Homo sapiens: one gene and its partners. The protein of the gene in region 3 purifies or fractionates together with the protein of the main gene of each other region. This does not show direct contact. Each region holds a gene or a part of one and is shown on either strand. Other genes may lie near its edges. The genes, in order: CTSH, CTH, SLC25A41, CSNK1G3, AIDA, GAP43 and STON2.

The links.
Region 1: the proteins of SLC25A41 (region 3) and CTSH purify together in Homo sapiens (affinity purification with mass spectrometry; 3 studies listed by BioGRID and IntAct, with this or other methods). This does not show direct contact.
Region 2: the proteins of SLC25A41 (region 3) and CTH purify together in Homo sapiens (affinity purification with mass spectrometry; 3 studies listed by BioGRID and IntAct, with this or other methods). This does not show direct contact.
Region 4: the proteins of SLC25A41 (region 3) and CSNK1G3 purify together in Homo sapiens (affinity purification with mass spectrometry; 3 studies listed by BioGRID and IntAct, with this or other methods). This does not show direct contact.
Region 5: the proteins of SLC25A41 (region 3) and AIDA purify together in Homo sapiens (affinity purification with mass spectrometry; 3 studies listed by BioGRID and IntAct, with this or other methods). This does not show direct contact.
Region 6: the proteins of SLC25A41 (region 3) and GAP43 purify together in Homo sapiens (affinity purification with mass spectrometry; 3 studies listed by BioGRID and IntAct, with this or other methods). This does not show direct contact.
Region 7: the proteins of SLC25A41 (region 3) and STON2 purify together in Homo sapiens (affinity purification with mass spectrometry; 3 studies listed by BioGRID and IntAct, with this or other methods). This does not show direct contact.

The regions. Positions count from the first base shown.
Region 1 is NC_000015.10:78,931,547-78,935,046, reverse strand, and holds part of CTSH (pro-cathepsin H isoform a preproprotein), read left to right. Parts: coding exon 1-69; intron 70-2,588; coding exon 2,589-2,675; intron 2,676-3,005; exon of another isoform or gene 3,006-3,450; coding exon of another isoform or gene 3,451-3,500. UniProt on the Homo sapiens protein: Important for the overall degradation of proteins in lysosomes.
Region 2 is NC_000001.11:70,414,268-70,417,767, forward strand, and holds part of CTH (cystathionine gamma-lyase), read left to right. Parts: intron 1-1,688; coding exon 1,689-1,770; intron 1,771-3,500. UniProt on the Homo sapiens protein: Catalyzes the last step in the trans-sulfuration pathway from L-methionine to L-cysteine in a pyridoxal-5'-phosphate (PLP)-dependent manner, which consists on cleaving the L,L-cystathionine molecule into L-cysteine, ammonia and 2-oxobutanoate.
Region 3 is NC_000019.10:6,430,964-6,434,909, reverse strand, and holds the start of SLC25A41 (mitochondrial carrier protein SCaMC-3L), read left to right. Parts: upstream 1-1,146; 5' UTR 1,147-1,216; coding exon 1,217-1,423; intron 1,424-2,705; coding exon 2,706-2,861; intron 2,862-3,946. UniProt on the Homo sapiens protein: Calcium-independent ATP-Mg/Pi exchanger that catalyzes the electroneutral exchange of Mg-ATP or free ADP against an hydrogenphosphate and participates in the net transport of adenine nucleotides across the mitochondria inner membrane.
Region 4 is NC_000005.10:123,613,177-123,615,362, forward strand, and holds part of CSNK1G3 (casein kinase I isoform gamma-3), read left to right. Parts: intron 1-1,165; coding exon 1,166-1,220; 3' UTR 1,221-2,186. UniProt on the Homo sapiens protein: Serine/threonine-protein kinase. Casein kinases are operationally defined by their preferential utilization of acidic proteins such as caseins as substrates. It can phosphorylate a large number of proteins. Participates in Wnt signaling.
Region 5 is NC_000001.11:222,677,992-222,681,491, reverse strand, and holds part of AIDA (axin interactor, dorsalization-associated protein), read left to right. Parts: intron 1-3,500. UniProt on the Homo sapiens protein: Acts as a ventralizing factor during embryogenesis. Inhibits axin-mediated JNK activation by binding axin and disrupting axin homodimerization. This in turn antagonizes a Wnt/beta-catenin-independent dorsalization pathway activated by AXIN/JNK-signaling.
Region 6 is NC_000003.12:115,719,747-115,721,983, reverse strand, and holds the end of GAP43 (neuromodulin), read right to left. Parts: intron 1,191-2,237; coding exon 1,102-1,190; 3' UTR 501-1,101; downstream 1-500. UniProt on the Homo sapiens protein: This protein is associated with nerve growth. It is a major component of the motile 'growth cones' that form the tips of elongating axons. Plays a role in axonal and dendritic filopodia induction.
Region 7 is NC_000014.9:81,278,325-81,281,824, reverse strand, and holds part of STON2 (stonin-2), read left to right. Parts: intron 1-3,085; coding exon 3,086-3,500. UniProt on the Homo sapiens protein: Adapter protein involved in endocytic machinery. Involved in the synaptic vesicle recycling. May facilitate clathrin-coated vesicle uncoating.

The DNA of each region.
Region 1 (3,500 bases), on a different chromosome or scaffold from region 3:
ACTGGTCCCTACCCACCTTCCGTGGACTGGCGGAAAAAAGGAAATTTTGTCTCACCTGTGAAAAATCAGGTATGCCTGGCAATCTCCATCCTCTCCCTGCAAAACGGCCACACTCCCAGACAATACACCAGGAAGAACAACTCAAAAGGTCCACAAAACCACCACAAGCACATCCCTGCCTCTGTTTCCTCTCGGCATCTCTCCAGCCCTCTTCCTTTGAGGGGCCAGGGAGGTCAGCACTTCTCTAGGCTGCTCTGGAGGATGCAAAAGTTCCTCTTTATTGGGCTAAAGTTTACTCCCTTCCTTCCCCACGCCCCAGATTTTCCCATTGGTCCCAGGTCTCTCCTACAGAGCCATCCAAAACGTTATGTTCCCTGTGCCCATCTGGACACCAGAACCCCATGCATCTCCTCTTCCCGCCTCCATCTTCTCCGAGCCACCAGGGTCCAGCCCCTGCCCTGGCTGGCCGCCTCCCTCTGGTTAGTCCATGTGTCATGCATCAGCAAGCTTCTCATGGCAGGGGCTGGCCTCCGTGGCCCTTGCTGTGGGGCACAGAGGGCTTGGCAAGGTGAGAGGCCCTGCCTTCCTCCATGGGGGAGCAGTCTGGGGGCATCTCAGCACAGGCCCTGTCCCAGAGAGTCTGGACCCTGCCCCCGCTGTTCTCCCGGCCTGCTGCGGCCCCTCCCCTAGCAGGGAACCTGCCGTGGCCTTCTTCAGAAGGATGCCGACCTCTGGACTCTAGGAAATATGAGGTGAAGGTTTCCTTCCTGGAAACTCCTGGCTTTCCATCGAAATTCTCCATGAGAAATGTTTTTTCACTTTCCAAAAAGCCATCCATGCAGCACAGCTTTAAAGCCTCCCGGGCTTGCAGTGTTCCTGGAGCCTGCCAAGTGCTGGATGTTTAACTAGCATCAGGAGCCAAAGCAAACCTCCCCTTGCAGCAGGAGGTGGAGTAGAAGCCTGCCTTTGCCCCGTGACATTTTTAGACCCTCTGAGAACCACATGACAATTCAGAGCAACACGTAACCTAAACCTGCCCACCACTTGGACAGGTGGGAAAGAGAGGCCCACCAAGAATTTTCCAAGTCCTCCTGTTAACTGATCCTGGGCCATCAGGCAGGACGCAGCCGGCTGGGCTAAGGGAGCGGAATGAGGTGCTTCCTGACGCAGATGTGTGCCGTCTCTTACTGTGGCCGCTGTGTGGGGATAGAGACGGACAGCAGCCACAGCGTCCATCAGCTCAGCACCCTCCTTGAGAGTTTCTCACTTTACAGAGGGAGAGCCTGAGAGGGAGGGTGGTTTGCCTGAGGTCCAAGGTAAGTAAGTGACAAAGGGGACTCAAAACCAGGCCCCTGCCCCAAGTCGAGCACCCAAGGGTCAGCCGAGCTCCGCCTCCTTCAGCAGTGAGCTTAGTCTCCCCCGAAGTGGCCACGTCTGCCTCGTTGACTGTCTCATGGACCCTCTCACCAGGCCGTCCCTCCCTCCCCCAGCTGAGAGAGATATGTGAAGGGAAGAGATTGGGTGAGGCCAGTGTCAACCTAGGGTGATGACCTGGGAGGCAGGTAGGGGACTTAAGAGACATTTCAGAAGTAGAAGCTGGAAGACTGAACCAGCAAGGTGAGGAAACAGAGATGAACCTGAGAGAAATCCTTACAGCAGCCACCAGCATTGTGCCCACGGGGGTGACTGCCTGACCAGCAGAATCTGACTTAACCCTGCTAGCGCCCTGCAAGCAGGAACCCTCGCCATTCCCACTTTACAAGCAATGAAGCCAAGGCTTCGAGAGGGGAAGTGACTTGCCCAGGTCACCCACCTGGTGTGTGGCAGAGCTGGGATGTGAACCAGGCAGGCAGGCTGCAGCCCCCCACACCTAATCCTCATGTTATTCTGGAGGTGTTGTGAATAAGGGGGCTAGGCAGCGGCAATGAACTGTTAGAAGGTGGGGAAATGGGTGGATGGGGCGGGTCCCCCAGAGTCTGGGGTGTCAGGGGTGTCTGGGTGGGGTTGTCTGGCAGTTAGTTGGATGTCTGAGCCTAAGTGGAGGTCAGCACTGGGCTAGGGTTTGGGGAGCTGTTAGTTTAACAGGACTGGGCAGAAGAGACTGGAGGTGGAAAGGTGAGAGAAGGTTCTAAAAACAGAACTTTGGGGCATCCTTCTGCAGGGAACCAGTAGGGAAAAGAGGAGCCAGTGAAGATCGAGAAGGAAGAGAGCCAGAAGACTGCAGAATGGGGTGGGGGACTCCAGGCCCTGGCAGAATGGTGGGGATTGGCCACCAAGAGGTGGTGATTGGGAGTCCACAGGCACTGGTCAGAGGCCACCTGCTGCTCCTGCTCCTTTGCAAGCCTCTCAGGACTTGCGAGGCTCAGAATGAATGGATCTGGAACAGGGCTTGCGAGCCTCAGAATGAATGGATCTGGAACAGGGCCTGCGAGGCTCAGAATGAATGGATCTGGAACAGGGCTTGGTAAACTGCCAAGGCACCTGGGGACTCGGGAGCTCTGGCAGGGTCAGCAGAGGAAGGCAGAAGGCAGGGCTGTCTCACGGCGTCCCCATCACTGATGTCCTCTGCTCTCCCCTGGCCTTTCCAGGGTGCCTGCGGCAGTTGCTGGACTTTCTCCACCACTGGGGCCCTGGAGTCTGCGATCGCCATCGCAACCGGAAAGATGCTGTCCTTGGTAAGAAATCAGCCACAGGCGACCCCCTGCGGAGGACACCCCATCCTGATGTGGGCCAGGCCTGGGCCTTTGGTTTCCCTGGAGCATTGGCTAAGGGTGCTGTTTCAGGTGGACCCAGATGCCCCAGCCTTGTGGACATCTGGCATGAGAATCTCAATTGATGCTTTTCCCGGGAAGGATCTGAGTTTATTAAGGAACCGGCCCAAGGGCTCATTCCTAGATGGATCTGGGTGGTCCTTAGCTTGACAGCCTGGAGCCTTCCCGGCGGAGGGGTTCAGAAAGGCGGAGCCTGCCTGGTGGGTAGCCAACTAGGAGCTACACCCTTCCCAGCAGCCTCAGTTGTCTTCATGAGGGAAGAGCCGGGACCTATGCATCCATCCCCTCGCCCACAAGAGACGGATGATGCCCCTGAAGGAACTATCCTAGCCCCTGCCTCTGTGGAGAAAGGAGGGACAGTGCACAGCCGGCCTGGTGATGCCATGAGGACCCTGGGTTGTGGACAGGTGGGGGTAGGGTCTCTGGCTGGGCCTGTTTCCCCCATCCTATACACCGCTGTGGGACCCCACACTCTGCATCGTATGGGCACACCTACGGGGCAGGGGTTTGGACCCAACAGCCCTTGCCCCCTCTCACCTTCCCTGGCTGCCCCTGCTTACTGAGCCCCTCCCGACATGTGCCAGCTGCTGGGCTGGCACTGCAGGACATACAGCAACTGTCCCTGCCCTTGGGGAGTTTATAATTTGGTCACCTTGACACAGCACTGACGGGGCCTCAGATGTGGCTCAGCCAGGGAGGCTTAGCGCCTCACGCCAAAGCCTTGACGGC
Region 2 (3,500 bases), on a different chromosome or scaffold from region 3:
CTTTCGGAGGCTGAGGCGGGTGGGTCATGAGGTCAGGAGATGAAGACCAACCTCCCCAACGTAGTGAAACCCCATCTCTACTAAAAAAGTACAAAAATTAGCTGTGTGTGGTGGCGTGCCTGTAGTCCCAGCTACTCTGGAAGCTGAGGCAGGAGAATCGCTTGAACCCGGGAGGTGGAGGTTGCGCCACTGCACTCCAGCCTGGCAACAGAGCGAGACTCCCTTTCAAAAAAAAAAAAGTCTGCTCAACTTGTCATAAACAAGGGCACATAGCAACAAAACTTTTAGAAGTTATTGTTGTTAATACTGGGAGCTTCTGAATCAGAAACAAAGGTGAAAGAGTGGTTGTGTTTTGTTATGTTATGTGAAGCAGAGGGAGAAAATTATAGGACTTCTAATTAATGTTCGAATCCTTGGTTCACAATCCGGTTTTGACACTCCCTAGGTACTATTGCATTTGGCTTCACTTTCCTCAAAGCCAGTCATAAGGATTAGTAGAATGACTGGATGAATATAGCTAGCAGGGTGCCATATATGTAAAAGGAGAATAATGCAATTTTTTTTTTTCCCGAGACAGAGTCTCGCTCTGTTGGCCAGCCTGGAGTGCAGTGGCACTATCTCGGCTCACTGCAACCTCCGCATCCTGGGCTCAAGCAATTCTCCTGCCTCAGCCTCCCGAGTAGCTGGGATTATAGGAATGCAAATTTTTAAAAAGTATTGTGTGGAGCTGTTTTGCCAGGAATTGCTCCCTATGCTTTGAGCCACTTTTGTAGAGCCAAGATGTGAATGAATGTTGAGCATTGGTAGGATGTGATCATAACTTCCTGTTGTATGCTAAATAGAACTTGAATCAGCCTGACAGATGGCTCACTCCTGTAATCTCAGCACTTTGGGAGACCAATGTGGGAAGATTGCTTGAGGTCAGGAGTTCAAGACCAGCCTGGGCAACATAGCTAGACTGCCTCTACAAAAAATAAAATTAAAATATTTGTTAGGCATGGTGACATGCACCTGTAGTCTTAGCTACTCAGGAGGCTGAGATCGGAGGATTGCTTAAGCCCAGGAGTTTGAGGCTGCAGTGAGCTATGATTGCCCCACCGTACTCTAGCCTGGGCAACAGAGTGAGGTCCTATCCTTAAAAAAAAAAACTTGTATCACTTAATCATTTATTTCTTAGGAAATGAAATACAGGTTAGAATTAGGTTTATTCTGTTGGCTCATGCAAGTCCCTTTTCCTAATGTTTCCAGATTAATGAAAAAAGGTGAGTCTAACATAATAAACATACTAATAATAAAAACTGTCATTTATTTAGTGATTAGCATGTGCCAGGAAACATGTAGTGAATTTGTGCATTATCTCATTTTATCTTCACAACAATTTTATGAACCAGATATCTGTATTTTATTCCCATTTTACAGATATTGAGATTGACTCTTGGAAATGTGAAGTAACTTACCTAGTGTCATGCAGCTCATAAGTGGCAGATACAGAATTCACATAGAGTTTGTTTGACTTCAGAGCATCTTGACTATAGCCACAGCACTGTTCTGCTTCTGTATTAAAGCAAGACATATCATGACTAAAGAATAGAAACTAATTATGGTAGGGTGAAACTATAGTTCTCTATGTTAGGACTCTGATAATAAACTGAAATCTCTTAGGATGAACTCGAACTTGTTTTTTTCAGGGTTTTGAATATAGCCGTTCTGGAAATCCCACTAGGAATTGCCTTGAAAAAGCAGTGGCAGCACTGGATGGGGCTAAGTACTGTAAGTAATTTCCATTTCACAGTCTAGAATCTATTTTTAAATGTATAGAGAAAACCATAGAGGCACAGAATGTGGAACTGAAAAGAAACAGATTTGCTAGTTCAAAATTCCTGTTCTACTGCCTTTGAATTCTTTGCCCAAGGTCCCTCAGTTGGTATAATATGCATATGTGTAATCATCAGGTAAAAATACGTATGAATAGAGGACAAATGAATAAAGGAAAAAATTCACACGAATACTACATTTATTAATACTACATTTATCATGTAGTATTCATGTGAAAACAATCTTCATCTGAAACTGTCAGTATAAATAAATAAATGGAAATTAAATTTAATAACACCACCTATTAGAATATAAAATCTTTTTTTGAGACAGGGTCTCTCATTCTGTTGCTCAGGCTGGAGTGCAGTGGCACAATCTCTGCTCATTGCAACCTCCTCCTCCAGGATTCAAGCGATTCTCCTGCCTCAGCCTCCTGAGTGGCTGGGATTGCAGGTGTGCACCACCACACCCTGCTAATTTTTTTTTTTTTTTTTTTTTGAGACAGAGTCTTGCTCTTGTCGCTCAGGCTGGAGTGCAATGGCAGGATCTCGGCTCACTGCAACCTCCGCCTCCTGGATTCAAGCAATTCTTCTCCTTCAGCCTCCCAAGTAGCTGGGATTACAGGTGCCTGCCACCACGCCCAGCTAATTTTTTGTATTTTTAGTAGAGATGGGGTTTCACCATGTTGGCCAGGCTGGTCTCGATCTCCTGACCTCGTGATCTCCCGCCTTGGACTCCCAAAGTGCTGGGATTACAGGAGTGGGCCACCACGCCCAGCCTTTTTTTTGTATTTTTAGTAGAGATGGGGCTATTTTGGCCAGGCTGGTCTGGAACTCTTGGGCTCAAGTGATCTGCCCACCTCGGCCTCCCAAAGTGCTGGGATTATAGATGTGAGCCACCACACTTGGCCTAAACTTGCTTATCCTCTGGTTTATTCACCTAATAATTTGTGCCTGAGAATAGCACTAAAGTTATTTTCAGTGGTCAATAACTCCTGATAATGTGCTGTCAGAGATTAGAGATTAACTCCCTAAACTTTTTTTTTTAATGAAGAGAGTCTTGTGTATTCATTGTGATTACACTTATCAGACAAATCTCAGGTCTGATTGCGAGTTTTGTTAAAATATTTACTGAATTGCATATTCATATAATTAACGTATGAATCATATCTTTGCTCTATTCTTTATGTTTGAAATTTCTCTTTTCTTTCTTTTTTTTTTGATATGGAGTCTCCCTCTGTCACCCAAGCTGGAGTGCAGTGGTGCAATCTTGGCTCACTGCAACCTCCACCTCCTGGGTTCAAGCGATTCTCCTGCCTCAGTCTCCCTCGTAGCTGGGATTACAGGCATGTGCCACCATGCCTGGCTAATTTTTGTATTTTTAGTAAACACAGAGTTTCACCCTGTTGGCCAGGCTGGTCACGAAATCTTGACCTCAAATGATCCACCTGCCTTGGGCTCCCAAAGTGCTGGGATTATAGGCATTAGCCACCACGCCTGCCCTGAAATTCCTTTAGTTTGCTATTTTTAAACTGTAGTTTAACTGGCAATAGGCCTTTTATCTCAGATATTTGTAAAGAATTATTTTCTTGAAGTGTTTCAGAGAAATATTATTACCAAGGCAAAATTGACTTAACACAAAAGTATCTGTCCACATTATATATTTTTTATTTTAAAGATATCTTA
Region 3 (3,946 bases):
TGAGATGGAGTCTCGCTCTGTTGCCCAGGCTGCAGTGCAATGGCTCAATCTCGGCCCACTGCAACCTCTGTCTCCTGGGTTCAAGCAATTCTCCTGTCTCAGCCTCCAGAGTAGCTGAGATTACAGGGGCACACCACCAAACCTGGCTAATTTTTGTATTTTTAGGAGAGACTGGGTTTCACTATGTTAGTCAGGCTGGTCTCGAACTCCTGACCTCAGATGATCTGCCAACCTCGGCCTCCCAAAGTGCTGGGATTACAGGCGTCAGCCACCACATCAGGCCTAGCAACCTTATTTGTATCTGCAAACTTAATTCCCCTTTGCCATGTAACAAATGTAAGTCAGCCCAGGCTGCTATAAGGAAACACTAAAGAGCGGGGTCTTAAACTGCAGACATTTATTTCTGGAGGCTGGGAAATCCAAGGTTAAGGTGGCTGGCTAGCTCAGTTCCTGCTGAGGGATTTCTTCCTGCCATGCCTTCTTGCTGCGTCCTCCCATGGCAGACAGAGAGAGAGAAAGAGCTCTGGTTTGTCTTTTCCTTATAGGGAACTAATTCCATCTTGCAGGGGCCATCCTCATGAGTTCATCTAACCCTGAGGACCTCCCAAAGGCCCTGTCTCCAAATTCCAACCCACTGGGAAATAGGGCTTCAACATAAGAATTTTGCGGCCGGAAGCAGTGGCTCACGCCTGTAATCCCAGCACTTTGGGAGGCTGAGGTGGGCAGATCATGAGGTCAGGAGATCGAGACCATCCTGGCTAACACGGTGAAACCCCGTCTCTACTAAAAAATAAAAAAATTAGCTGGGCGTGGTGGCGGATGCCTGTAGTCCCAGCTACTCGGGAGGCTGAGGCAGGAGAATGGTGTGAACCCCAGAGGCGGAGCTTGCAGTGAGCCAAGATAGCGCCACTGCACTCCAGCCTGGGAGACTGAGCGAGACTCCGTCTCAAAAAAAACGATAATAATAATAATTTTGACAGGACACAATTCAATTTATAACGATAACATATTTATTGGTTTGGGGGATCAGGAGGTGGATACTTGGGGGAAGGGGGCCATCACGCTGCCCACCACACCTAGGAAGGTCACAGGGGCGTTTGTGACTTCATCCTCCTCTTGGTCCCCCACACAATCCTCCCACTAGACACTCCCGCATGGTAGCTGGAGCAGCAAACAACTGCTTAGGGATTTGAAGCCAGGTGTCCTAACTTCCTCCATGGGCGCTCAGCCTGGGGAACCTCAGAACACTTGCTCTAGGATCCAGACACTGTTTAGGAGGGTCAAGACCTTACTCATCAAAGCCCCGCCTCCCCCCCAACCTCCGCCTCCACCCCCATCCTGGAACCCTGGCTGTACACACGTGTATGGGTACGCGTTTGGCCACATGCATGACAACAACCTTGAACATCTCCCGTCACAGCAGGTGAGTTTAGGAAACACCAGTGTCCCGGCACCTCTGGTCAGGACTACAGGGAGAGGCCAGGCTACCCACGCCCTCTACAGGCCCACTCCCCTGCTAGCGGACCTAGAATTCCACCTTGAAGCAGGGTGGGGCAGGGAGGCAGGGCGCGATGGCTCCACACATGTAATCCCAGCACTTTGGGAGGTTGAGGTGGATGGGTCACTTGAGGACAGGAGTTCAAGACCAACCTGGCCAACATGCCGAAACCCTATCTCTACTAAAATTACAAAACTTAGCCAGGCATGGTGGTTGGCGCCTGTAGTACCAGCTACTCAGGAGGCTGAGGCAGGAGAATCGCTTGAACTCAGGAGGTAGAGGTTGCAGTGAGCCCAGATCTCATCACTGCACTCAAGCCAGAGCAACACAGCGAGATTCTGTCTCAAAAAATAAGAATAAATTAAGAGTCTAGATATAGTCCTAATTACATTTGTATTCCTCCTTGGATCCTCCATGAGTAACTTAGAGAGTCTATATTACATTGGCTGGGTGTGGTGGCTCACACCTGTAATCCCAGCACTTTGGGAGGCTGAGGCAGGTGGATCACCTGAGGTCAGGAGTTCAAGACCAGCCTGGCCAACATGGTGAAACCCTGCCTCTATTAAAATAATACAAAAATTTGCTCGGCACGTTGGCACTGTAATCCCAGCTACTGGGGAGGCTGAGGCAAGAGAATCACTTGAACCCAGGAGGCGGAGGTTGCAGTGAGCCGAGATCACACCATTGTCCCTACTTGGGAAGCTGAGACACGAGAATCGCTTGAACCAGGGGGACAGCGGTTGCAGTGAGCCAAGATCGCACCACTGTACTCCAGCTTGGGCGATAGAGTGAGACTCTGTCTAAAAAAAAACAAAAACAAAACAAAAAAAAACCAGGGGGGAGGGTTGAATCACTTGAGGTCAGGAGTTAGAGACCAGCCTGGCCAACATAGTGAAACCCATCTCTACTAAAAAAAAAAAAAAAAAAAAAAAAAAAAATTAGGTGTTGTGGTGCATGCCTATAATCCCAGCTACTCAGGAGGCTGCGGCAGGAACTGCTTGAACCTGGGAGGTGGAGGTTGCAACGAGCTGAGATTGTGCCACTGCACTCTAACCTGGGCAGCAGAGCAAGACTCCGTCTCGAAAAAAAAAAATGCAGACTTGGGGGAACAGGGTGGGTCTTTCACCAGGTGGGTGCCCTAGATGTGTGTCTGGGGAAGGTGCCCCAACCTGGCTGAGGATGAGGGAGGGCCGGGTCTGCCCTGCAGGTACTGGACACAGGAGAGCAGCTGATGGTCCCCGTGGAAGTCCTGGAAGTGGATAACAAGGAGGCCTTGTGGAAGTTTCTACTCTCAGGAGCTATGGCCGGGGCGGTGTCTCGCACGGGCACGGCACCTCTGGACAGAGCCAAGGTGTACATGCAGGTTTGTGTGGGTTGGGGGGAGGACGGGACCCAGCGCTGGAGCCACTGGGGAGAACGTGGGGTGAGGACAGATGGAGTTGACGTGGATGGAGTTCAGGATAGGAGTGCTGGCTGGAGTTGGGCTCTCCTGGACTAGCTGAGATTGAGGTTGTGGATGGTGATAGAGCTGGTGTGGACATGGCTTGGAGTCGAGTTTGAGGAGTTGAGAGAACTTGCCAGGGACAGGGACCAACGCTGGGCCAAGGTGGGGGTTGGAGGTCAGGGAATTGGGGATGGGGTCTTTGGACGAGTTTAAAGACAAGGTAGGGGCCAGGTGCAGTGGCTCATGCCTCTAATGCCAGCACTTTGGGAGGCCCAGGGGAGGTAGATCATCTGGGGTCAGGAGTTTGAGACCAGCCTGGCCAACATGGCGAAACCCTGTCTCTACTAAAAATACAAAAAAATTAGTCGGGCATGGTGGTGCGTGCCTGTAGTCCCAGCTACATAGGAGGCTGAGGCAGGAGAATTGCTTGAACCCAGGAGATGGAGGTTGCAGTGAGCCGAGATTGCATCACTGCACTCCAGCCTGGGCAACAGAGTGAGACTCTGTCTCAAAAAAGAAAGAAAAAAAAAAAAGGCAACATAGAACTGGAGCTACCTCAAGCAGGATATCTCACACCCATAGTCTCAGCTGCTCAGGAGGCTGAGGCAGGAGGATTGCTTGAGCCCAGGAGTTGGAGGCTGCAGTGAGCCATGATCATGCCACAAACTCCAGCCTGGGTGACAGAGCGAGATCCCTGGCTGAAAAAATAAACGGGTGCAGTGGCTCACTTTGGGAGGCCAAGGAGGGAGGATTACTTGAGCTTAGGAGTTTGAGACCAGCTGGGCAATATAGTCAGACCACATCTCTACAAAATAATAATTAATTAATTAATTAATTAAAAATTTAAAAAGGAGTCGGGCATGGTGACTCACACCTGTAATCCCAGCACTTTGGGAGGCCAAAGTGGGAAGATCGCTTGAGCCCAAGAGTTTGAGACCAGCCTGGGCAACATAGTAAGACCCCATCTATACAAAAAATTTTACAAAATTAGCCTGCCATGGTAG
Region 4 (2,186 bases), on a different chromosome or scaffold from region 3:
TTAATTTTTTTCTTTTTTTTTTTTGGTGGGAGCAGATCAGTGATTTTTTCAGTTCATACCAGACCACAGCATTTTCCCACAGCAGCCTTGATGTGTTCATCTCCTCTTTTAGAGACAGGGTCTTGCCCTGTCACACAGACTGGGGTTCAGTGGCACAATCATAGATCAAACATTCCTCCTGCCTCAGCCTCTCAAGGAGATGGGGTAACAGGCGGGTGCCACCATGTCCAGTGCATGTGTGTGTGTGTGTGTGTGTGCGTATGTATGTATAATATAATATATGTGTGTACATTTATATATGTATGTGTGTATATATATATTTAGAGATATTTGTGTATGTGTATATGTAGTTAGAGAGAGAGAGATATTTAGAGATGGGGTCTTGCTGTATTGTCCAGGCTGGTCTTGAATTCTTAAACTCCTGAGCTCAAGCAATCCTCCTGCCTCGGCCTCTCAAAGTGCTGGGATTACAGGCATGAGCCACTGTGCCCAGCCAAGATTTTTTTTCACCTAGAAATAAAAGTCAGTATTATATTTTTTTGCATATACAGTTTTGACTTGTAAAATGGAATCACCTCAATTGTGCTACTTTAAATATTAAGCATAGTTTTTACCTTAACTAAACTTTCAATAAGCTTGACCTTCTTTAACCCTTAAAGAATTCAAAATTGCCAGTCTTGGTATTCTATATAATGTATTTTCTGTCTTTCACTTTTTTAATATGATGGAAAATGTTGACTAGTGTATATTGGAGTGTCTTTTTATTTTTGGAGTCTAAACTGATTATTGGTGAGAATAAACTCCCCAATGTTAGGATCATTATTGCCTTCCTAATGGCTTCAACAGTCACATATAAATATCAGGGAGAAAGGGTGAGAATGCATAGAATGAAATTCTTAATTACTCTTAGTGAAAAACCTTTTGAATTTAATGGCTCCTTTTTATGTTGCATAGAATGTCTTGCTATTCTTAAAAGGCATGTGAATGAAACATAATAGTAATAGCTCTGCCATATTTTCACTAATACGTATGCTTCATTGGTGTAATCACTGTTTATCTTGCACTAGCCTGTTGCTTTTTATGATCATTTAAGTTAAAGTGATACAGTCAACTTTGTGATATTTTAGTGCTTTTAAAATAAAAAGAGTGTTTCCCTCATCTGCAGGTGCTGCTGTTTTTTCAAACGAAGGAAAAGGAAAACCATACAGCGCCACAAATGACTCTGGACACAGACAGATCCTGGGGAGTTACTTACATGTTCATCTGCTGTCTTGTGATTAAAATCATCTCTGTAGTGACCACGTATATTTTCAAGGACTCACTCTTAGAAACAAAAATGTCATACTTTCATACTTCATTTTGTGGTTGTCTTACATTCTTTTTCTTTTTTTTTTTTTCTCTAATTTAACCTTTATGGAAGCTTTAAAGTTTTGTCAAAACATGAGTGCTTTGCCCATCAGTGAATGGAATGGACCAATGAGGTGGTATCAATGAATATAGTTCCATAGAACATTTTCCAGAAGTTCTTCTGTTGTAGAAAGCAGTACAGTATCTTAAGTGTCAACCAGTTATATACCTAATCTGGTTTTTTATAACTTCTGTAAGAGCATAATCAAACAGGAATTTTCTTTTCTCAGTGGATAATACAACAGAGAAAACAGAGTTGCCCAAATATTTAAAAGAAGTTATTCCTTGAGAAGTTCATATTTTGTGACATCTGCATTGATTTCAGTATTACTGATGGTACTGTTATTCATAAGTCATATTAACATTCTCTCCGTGAAATCATGGTACAGTCACTGCCCAGAGGTACTGAGGAAAAAGCAATATGGGTTCGGCAGATGGTGGTGGTAAAATGAATCTTAAGGAGTGTGGTAAATATGTGCTCCGCTTTTGTTGCATCACTATGTGAAGTACTGTGTTGCAGAAGTGGCAAAAGCGCTTATTTTTAAAAATGCAAAATATTTGTACAATGTAACTTTATGCTTCCAAATAATAATGTATGTTAGACAGCAAGAAATGAATACTTTAAAAAGTGATGTATGTTGGAGTTATAAAGAAATACACTAAGGAGAGGTAGTAAATGTGAACCTTGTTGCAGTGTATAAGGTGGAAGCCTAAAGAAATCTCACCGAAACTTACTGCTGAATGATTACATTCTCCCTTAAGCAGAAAACTTTGGATGT
Region 5 (3,500 bases), on a different chromosome or scaffold from region 3:
GAGTTTCACCATGTTGGCCAGGCTGATCTCAAACTCCTGACCTCAGGTAATCCACCCACCTTGGCCTCCCAAAGTGCTGGGATTACAGGTGTAAGCCACCATGCCCGGCCAATTTTCAAAACATTCTTGAGTGAACTGGTCTTTGTTGAATAAACTTAGCCATTTCTCTGATACCTAGAACCAGTTTTCATTTTATTTGTGAGAATTTTGATAGCAGCACTTCAGTGAAGAAAGCCATGAGTTGACAGTGTCAGCGTTTTCTGTTTGACACCACAGTGTACAGCCCAGGGCAGTTCCTCAGAGGTACACGTGAGGACAGGGCGTGAAATCCAGCTTGGCCTTTGCTTGTTTGGGGACTTCACAGCAGAAACAGTTTTCTTGAGTACACCATTCTTTATAGACCTTACAAATGCTATAGCATGTCATTTATTGGTAAAATTTTTAGACTCAATAGAGAAGCTTTTTTTTTATAGTTTATCACAAAACCTCTTCAGGATATGAAAAGTCATCTCTTGTGTCCACTTATTGCGCGGTTTGGGAATAGAGCCTTTTAAATTTCTTATACTATATCTTGTGCTAAAAACGTCTTGTAATTTCACATGCAGGCATTATGAGATCCTTGCCCACTGTGTGACTTTTCTTCCTCTGGGCATTAAGCTCTGCTACTAAGTAATTTCCTTTTTGAGCCTTTTTTAAGTGAACATTACTTTAGAAAAAAAAAAAGCTTTACTCTATTTTAAATGGCCATTAGGATATCAAAATAATCGGTGTCTTTACTTATCAATGGTTGTGACTTGTAGTTGCGATTTCTCGATTTTGTTGGATCCATTGCTGCATTGATAAAGTGTTTTTCACAGATGAGGCAACTTGGAAATTATCCATCCAGGTACAACCATATTAATAAGTAGGTCTCATCATTAAATGGACTTTTTTGTTTTTCCCAGTGCACTAGTGCAGTGAAATGATTCAGAAGCTTGAAATTCATTGTTTTTACTTAGGGAGAATTGTCTCTATGCTTAGGCTTAGAACCTTCCTCTCCTAGCTCATACCTCTTCTTTAGAAATCACATTGAATTGAAAAATTTCCTCCAGTTTTCTTTGCTACAAGTAGAGCATGTTTGCTTCAGCTGTTGGTGCATAAGGGAAGGTTGGGGCAGGTAAAGCTGAAGAGGCTGACGTCAGACTGCTGTATAGAGCTCATCAGCTACCAGTGGCTTCCCCTGTCTCCTGAAAAAAAAAATACTAAATGGACCAAGTCAAGTGAACATAATCTTAACTGCTTACTGCCATATGAGGCTCAAAGACCTATAATAAAATTGCTATAGGGGCTGCATAGTCTCTTTCCATCACTGTGAACCTGCATTGCTCAGTGTACAAAGCCCATTGCAGGGGCTGCAGATGGTGTAGTATTATCCTCGTATTTTATTGTCTTTAGTGCATATTTAAAGGCAGTGCATTGATAGAAATCACTCTTTTGCGTGGAGCTCCTAGCGAGTTCAGGGACACCCTGGGATTCCACAGAACCCAGGTTGAGAAATCTTGATTTAGACAGTTGTAGCCATACAGAGCTTTTCATATTTAGAAGTGTGAGGCAGAAATAATGCATCCCTTCCCAAAGATGTCCACATCCCAATCCTCAGAATCTGTGCATATGTTTCTTACATTACACGGCAACAGAGACTTTGCAGATGTGATTATGTGAAGGACCTTGAGATGGGGAGGTCATTTCACAGCTCCTGTGTAGGCTCTATGGACAATGAAGAAATGGCCAAATGAGGTGTGGTGGTTACAAGCATGGAATCCCGTGCCAAACTGCTATATGATTGTGGGCAGATTACTTAACTTTTCTGTCTTAGTTTTCACTTCTGAAAAAATGGGACACCTTGTTATAGGGTGCTATAGCACCTGTGTTATAGGGTTGTTGGGAGGATTAAATGAGTTAGTACATGTAAAGGATTAGAACAGTGCCTGGCACACCCTGACATGTTCTGTAAAAGTTGGCTGTTTATTATTTATGCAGCTTTTCCATATGGAAGAACATTTATTATTTCTGATCCTCACTTTAGATCTAACAGCAAATGATCTAGCTGGAAACACGCAGTTTTTCATGGCTCATGTATGATTTCTTTTCTTACTTCAGTTACAGTCTTCAAGTTTTATAAATGTAGTTACTTATTCTCATATTACTCTATACAGTTGAATGTGTTCATTCTTCTTTTAGAAATCTTGCTTTTAATACATTGCCTTGATTTTTAATTATTGTATGTTTTTATCTTTGATACACAAATATGTTAACTTTTTCATCTAACCCTGGAATGGTGTGGTATTATCCTAGTATTTTATCTTCTTTCGTGCATATTATATAAGGCAGTACATTGATATATGTTTTCAGGCCACATGTTTATAGAGCATAATAACCTCTAGAACTGTAAAATTCATTTATCATTCAACAAATGATAAAAGAGTTCTAAAACAAAGATCTCTTTATTACTAGTGAAAACAATACAAAAATGAACAGTTACTCATCCCGTCTTTCAGGATGCTCACCATGTAAGACAGAGCCAAAAAAAGTACATCATCATGGTTAGAGGTGGACACAGTATATTATGAGTGAACGAAAAAAGGACTGACAGAGTTTAGCAAAGGTAATCTAGCCAGAACTGAGACTCAAAGGGAGTGTAGGAGTTGACTAGGCAGGGAGAGAGCACATTAGAAACCACTGAGAAATACACCTTTCTCTATTACCTGTCGTCTTAATCACATAGCTTCAGCTGTTCCTTAGTAAAGATAAAACTACTGAACCTTCATGGTGGAGATGAAATGTTTTATGTTCTACCTTGAATTAGGGAAGAACTGAATAAATTAAGTATCTTTCCAGCTTGGAATCACTGCCTCCATATTACATTGTTAGAAATATATTTAGTAGTTAGATTAAACCTTATTATATTCTCAGGCAAAAAAAAAGTTTGTTGGTAAGGAAGAAAGAAATGTCAGCCTCATTATTTCAACTAAAAGATCTAGACAATTACAGGTTATGAAACTGATTCACCTAAAGGTAGAAGAATTTTTAATGTTTACTTGGGAGAAAATAGTCTATCATAAAAAGAACTTGTCTCTTTTGTCTGTCAGAAAACACCATAATCAAAATCAAAATGACAAACGACTAATATTCTTAATATATAAAGAAAATTTTAAGTTGTGACAACAAAGACCCCAAACACATTAGAAAATTGGGCAAAAGACATGAACAGATAGTACACACACACACACACACACACACACACACACACACCCCAAGATATACAAATAGCTCTTAAATGTATTAGAAGATACTCAACTTTACATATGATAAAAGACATGCAGATGCCTTATATGGCAGTTCCCTGTTGCTGAGACAACAGGGAAATGGGCTCATTTATCACTGGTGGGAATAGAAAGTGGTAATAGTCCCTTTAAAGGAGAGTTCAGCAATAGCTCAGCAACAACAAAAATATACAATTT
Region 6 (2,237 bases), on a different chromosome or scaffold from region 3:
TTTTTGTAAAGATAGGGTTTCACCATGTTGGATACACTGGTCATAAATTAGTGTCTCTTATGGGCTGAATTGTGCCCTATCCCCCAAATTTATATGTTGAAGCCTTAAGCTCCAGTACCTCAGAATGTGACCTCATTTAAAAATGAGGCTTTGACAGAGGCAATTAAGTTAAAGTGAGGTCATTAGGGTGGGCCCAACTCAGTATCACTAGTATCTTTACAAAATGGGGAAATTTGGACACAAAGACAGGCATAAAGGGAAGATGTGAAGAGGCACAGTTAAAAGATAGCCACCCATAAGCCAAAGAGACAGGCCTGCAACAGATGTCTCCCTCGAGGGCCGGAGCTATTGGTCTTGACCAGAGCCTTAGGCTTCATCTGTGTTTTCTTTATCAGGGTTGCTGATGTAAAACTGAGAGAAGAAAAAGATGAAAATGTAAGACCCTAGCATGTCCAACCAACTAATGAGAAGGTAGAACAGAAACACAGAGCCATTGGACCTTGATTACTCTCATGATTTATTAATATTCGGGTTGAAAAAGGAGCCTTAGAGCCGCAAGTTTACGCTAATTGGCACATTTGCTTTATTTATTTATTTTTAAAACAAACTGGGTTTTTTGAATTTTTTCCTTTTTGTTCATTCCATCACATTGAAAAGGAGGAAAACAAAAATGATTTTGAATTCACTCGATATTTTGGACTCCTCAGATGAACGGAACATTGCACACACACTTGGAACAGAGAGAGAGAGAGAGAGGAAAGTGGACTCCCACAGGGCCACACGCACCAGATCAAATAACTTGGATACAGTGCAAGAATTTCCCAAAATGATTGAATCATCATTACCAAAAACTTGCCATAACAACACCAAGAAACAAAAAATGTTTAAGCCACACTGTTTGACTTGGGATCTTTCCTGCTTTTTTTTTTTTTTTTTAAATGTTTGCCACACAGAGAGAAAGAGGGCTAGTGGGTGGGAAAGGACAGACTCACAGACGTGAGCAGGACAGGAAGGGACTTCAGAGTGGAGCTGAGAAGAGGGTAGGGAGAGACAGGCTCAGGAGAGGGGAGGGTGGGGATGTGGAAAGCCATTTCTTAGAGTTCAGGCATGTTCTTGGTCAGCCTCAGGTTCCTCTTCTTTACCCTCGTCCTGCCGGGCACTTTCCTTAGGTTTGGTTTCATCTACAGCTTCTGAGAAAGAAAACAAGATAGGATGGGGGGAAAAGGAGAGAATTAGTATTTTGTCTTATCTGCTCATACAACAGTGCAATGCATTTCTTCTTTTTATGTCATTTCATAAGAGCATTAAGATTAAAAGAGATTATTAATATCCCAGTTAATGTAGGTTACAAGTTCAGAAGAGTTTACCTCAAGGAAGCTGTTCAGTGGCACCTATGGAAGAACTCAGGAGCAAAGGTATGTGAGTGACAAGGAGACCACTTAACAAAAGTTACTATGGTCTTTAATCTCTCAGCCTTACAATCAAGGTATCCACATACAGGATCTTCACATAGGGAATCAACGACAATCTTGTATTGCTGTTCTATTAGTGTCAGAAGAATTGTGACAGATAATTTATGTGGACCATCGATCATCTAGTCCAAGTTTCTTACCACTCATTTCCAGTATTGAAAAGTGAAGTAGTTGAATTTTCAGCTCCTGTGGGACAGTGCTAGTCAATTATATAGAAATTGAAGTCCCTAGAGAGGGCAGAGTTGGGTTTTGCCCTTCACATTCTCCTATTCCTGATCACTTGGACATCAAACAATACATGGCACTGTAGCAGCTGCCTTGTGACCATGAAGACAAAAACTATACACTAAGGATGGTGGAGCAAAAAGAAAAAATCATCACTGAGTGACTGTACCACTCCTAGATATCTTTCCCTCAGAAACAAGTCACTAGCCTCTTTAAAGCATTGTAATATAATAGTTTTCAGTTTCTTGCAGCCAAGCACATTCCAACTGAATACACTTATCCACAGGGAAAGTACTGCTTTGCTTAACAGGGAGGATATCATGTCTTTTTGAAGAAAAATTTTCCCTTTGTTTCCCGACAGAACTCAGTCAACTGATTTTATGCTCCCTGATAGTTTACTAATATGCTAGCTTGTGGAAAAAGAATTCATTTGCTCTGAAACAACTTGTGTTGCCAAACAATCAACTCCCTGTGTCAGTGTCCCCCAAGACCACCCCTAGGTTCAGTGATTTGCTAGGAGGACTCATGGGACTCAGCATG
Region 7 (3,500 bases), on a different chromosome or scaffold from region 3:
TCAAATTTAAAGACACTTGTTTAATTTGTATTATAACTCTAATGCTTCAAAACTGTTTAGGACTTGGCGTGATTTAAACTAACTTGGTTTGAAAAGGAATTTATTGTAAGAAAATGATCTTCAGTAGGGACAAAGGCCTTTTTTTCTCTTTTCATTTTTGGCTTAGAAGATGAGAAGGGCTGTTTTGAGGACAAGATTCCCAACAGAAGGGAATCCTTTGGTGGCAAGTGTAAACAGCTTTGGCAGAAAGCCGCCCTCCAAAGAAAAAGGACTTCAGCTTGTTTTAAACTACAGGGTGAGCTCCAAGACAAAAAGGATAACCCTGATGCCAGGGGTGGGCCAATAGAGATTGTTTGGGTGGAAACACTACATCACAAAGGCTCTCTAGAGCTGCCTCATTAGAAGTTGATGAGTTTTGAGATGTACCCCTTTCCCAGTTCTCTAGACAGGATCAATTACCATTCCAAGGAAGTGATTATATTTCACTCAGGACCACAATGTTCCTTTTAGACTTTGTTACCAAAATGATAAATAAAATATAAATACTGTAAGTGTAGGTTGTTTCCTGACCGTTTTCCCTTCGATTTTCAGAAAATTAATCACTTATACAAAACTGGATTCATGCTTAATTTGAAGGAGATTCTCATCTTTAATTTAAAAATGCTTTAGAATCCTTTTTAGTCACTGTAGATATAGAAAATGCTTTTCGCTCATTTTGTTTCTGGGGTGGGTATGGATATGTGTATATGTATATGCATACTCGTGTTTAGCCTACAGCCTACATTTTCTTTTCTTTTCTTTTTTTTTTTTTTTTGAGACGGAGTTTCGCTCTATCGCTCAGACTGGAGTGCAGTAGCGCCATCTCGGCTCACTGCAACCTCTGTCTCCCAGGTTCAAGCACTTCTCCTGCCTCCGCCTCCCGAATATCTAGGATTACAGGCTTGTGCCACCACGCCCAGCTAATTTTTGTATTTTTAGTAGAGACAGGGTTTCACCATTTTTGCCAGGCTGGTCTTGAACTCCTGACCTCAAGTGATCTGCCCGTCCCGGCCTCCCAAAGTGCTGCGATTACAGGCATGAGCCACCGTGCCCGGCCTAGCCTACATTTTCAAACTTACGTTTTCATTTGAGAGAATTGCTATCTGTTTGAATAAATTACTTGGAAAGATGGGTGACAAGCCAGCATCCCATCCTTGTATAATTATGTGCAATTATGTGCGGCATTGCTGATGGGTGTGGTTGGATGTGATATGCATGAAGATGTAGTGAGGTGGTCAGAAAACTCAGTCATTTGAGTATCCATTTCCCTTTGATTCCAAACAACTGGCCATAGAAACAGTGGGTAGGATGGTAGCAGAGATCCCCTATACCCATTCCTGCAGAGACGTAGAGAATGGAAGAGCTACTCTAAAGCAAAGTTTCTTTTCTCACTTATTTAATCAAAAAACCTTATTGAGTACCTACTATATGCACACATTTGTTGTCTGTGCTGTTCCTTCATCAGAATTCATTCCTCCTTGCTAAAAGCCTCATTTCCCCTCCCTTCCCACAGCCCCAGCAGATACCCACGGTCCTTAGGTTACTGAAAAAGTTTAGATCTTGCCCTCATCAAACCCAAGTCCTGTATCTCTTTCCTTGAAGGCCCTGCTAAAGTGGAGTTTTATTTGTAATAACCTTTTTATCATAAAAAATAAACTTCGAGATGGAAAAATATTTTAGAGAAAAAAAGGAGATTATATCATGAGCATTTTCTCCTGATATACTGCCTACTTGTAAACATTTTAGTGGGTGGGTATTATTTTATTGTAGGCTTCAATTTCTTAACACTCACCCAATTGTTGAATATTTAAAATATTTTTCCCTATTATAAATAATGCCAAAATGGACATCTCTGTTCTTCAAACTTGGTTCATAATTTAGATTTATTTTCTTAGGGTAGAATTACTAAGTCATTGTTTATTAACATGTGTTAAGATCCTTAATATAAATTGCCCAATCTCTTTTCAGAGCATCTGTTGCAACTTAGTTTCACTAAGCATCCACTTAGTGCTCCTATTATGGCACCTTTACCCTCATTGAGCACTAAAATCTTTCAAAATCTTCACTGATTTTTTTTTTTTCATTTTTCATTTTTGAGACAGAGTCTCGCTCTGTTGCCCAGGCTGGAGTGCAGTGGCACAATCTCCGCTGACTTCTATCTCTGCCTCCTGGGTTCAAGTGATTCTCCTGCCTCAGCCTCCCAAGCCGCTGGGATAACAGGTGCCTGCCACTACGCCCAGCTAATTTTTTTGTATTTTTAGTAGACATTGGGTTTCACCACGTTGGCCAGGCTGGTGCCGAATTCCTGACCTCGTGATTTGCCCACCTCGGCCTCCCAAAGTGCTGGGATTACAGGCATGAGCCACTGTGCCCGGCCATTTTTCTTATTACTAGTGAGATTCGATATTTTTCACATACTTACTAGACATTTTTTAGTTTCTCTTTCATGAGTTGTCTATGTTCTTTACTCAGACTTCTTTTGGGGTTTTTGTGTTTTTCTTATTCACATGTATGAACCTACTGAATATTAAGAAGGTTAACTGTTTGTCTTTAATATTTATTCATTATGTTTAGGCTAAAATCCCTCCAAGAATATTATTTATAATCATATTATCACTTACAGACGATAACTTGGTTTTTTTCAGTGAGATGAGCTTATATCATTTTATATAGGAGATGGCTTTCAATGTTTAAAAATTAAGAACACATTCCTCAAAGCTAAGTACAGAACACATCTATTCCAGAAGCTTTTATAAAATAAGGAAGAGTATATAAATTGCAAGAGACCTTGGTACTACCAGTCAATACTTCTGTATTGATATAGCCATTGGGTTCTTATTGCACTTAATGCGATAGCTCCTCTGGGGTGCTCATTACAGAATTGTGAGATCTATGCCCAGACTAAGCACTTGAAACAGATAATGAGCTGCTTTGGAATGTACTGGATTCCAGTTAAAATTCTAGTAATCCCTCATTCCTATACTTCAGTTTTCCTTACCTCTAGAGCCCCTGAACAGTAGCTCATATGTTCTCCTTTTCCTTTTAGACAATTCCTCCTCGCTTCAAGAAGATGAAGAAGTAGAGATGGAGGCCATCAGCTGGCAGGCCAGCAGTCCAGCCATGAATGGGCACCCTGCCCCTCCAGTGACCTCTGCTCGTTTTCCCAGCTGGGTCACCTTTGATGACAATGAAGTCAGCTGCCCTTTACCACCAGTCACCTCTCCTCTGAAGCCAAATACACCACCAAGTGCATCTGTGATCCCAGATGTACCTTATAATTCAATGGGATCATTTAAGAAGAGGGACCGTCCCAAGAGCACTTTGATGAACTTCTCCAAAGTTCAGAAGCTGGATATTTCCTCTTTAAACCGCACGCCTTCTGTAACTGAGGCTTCACCTTGGAGGGCAACCAACCCTTTCCTGAATGAGACTCTGCAGGATGTACAGCCCTCCCCTATCAA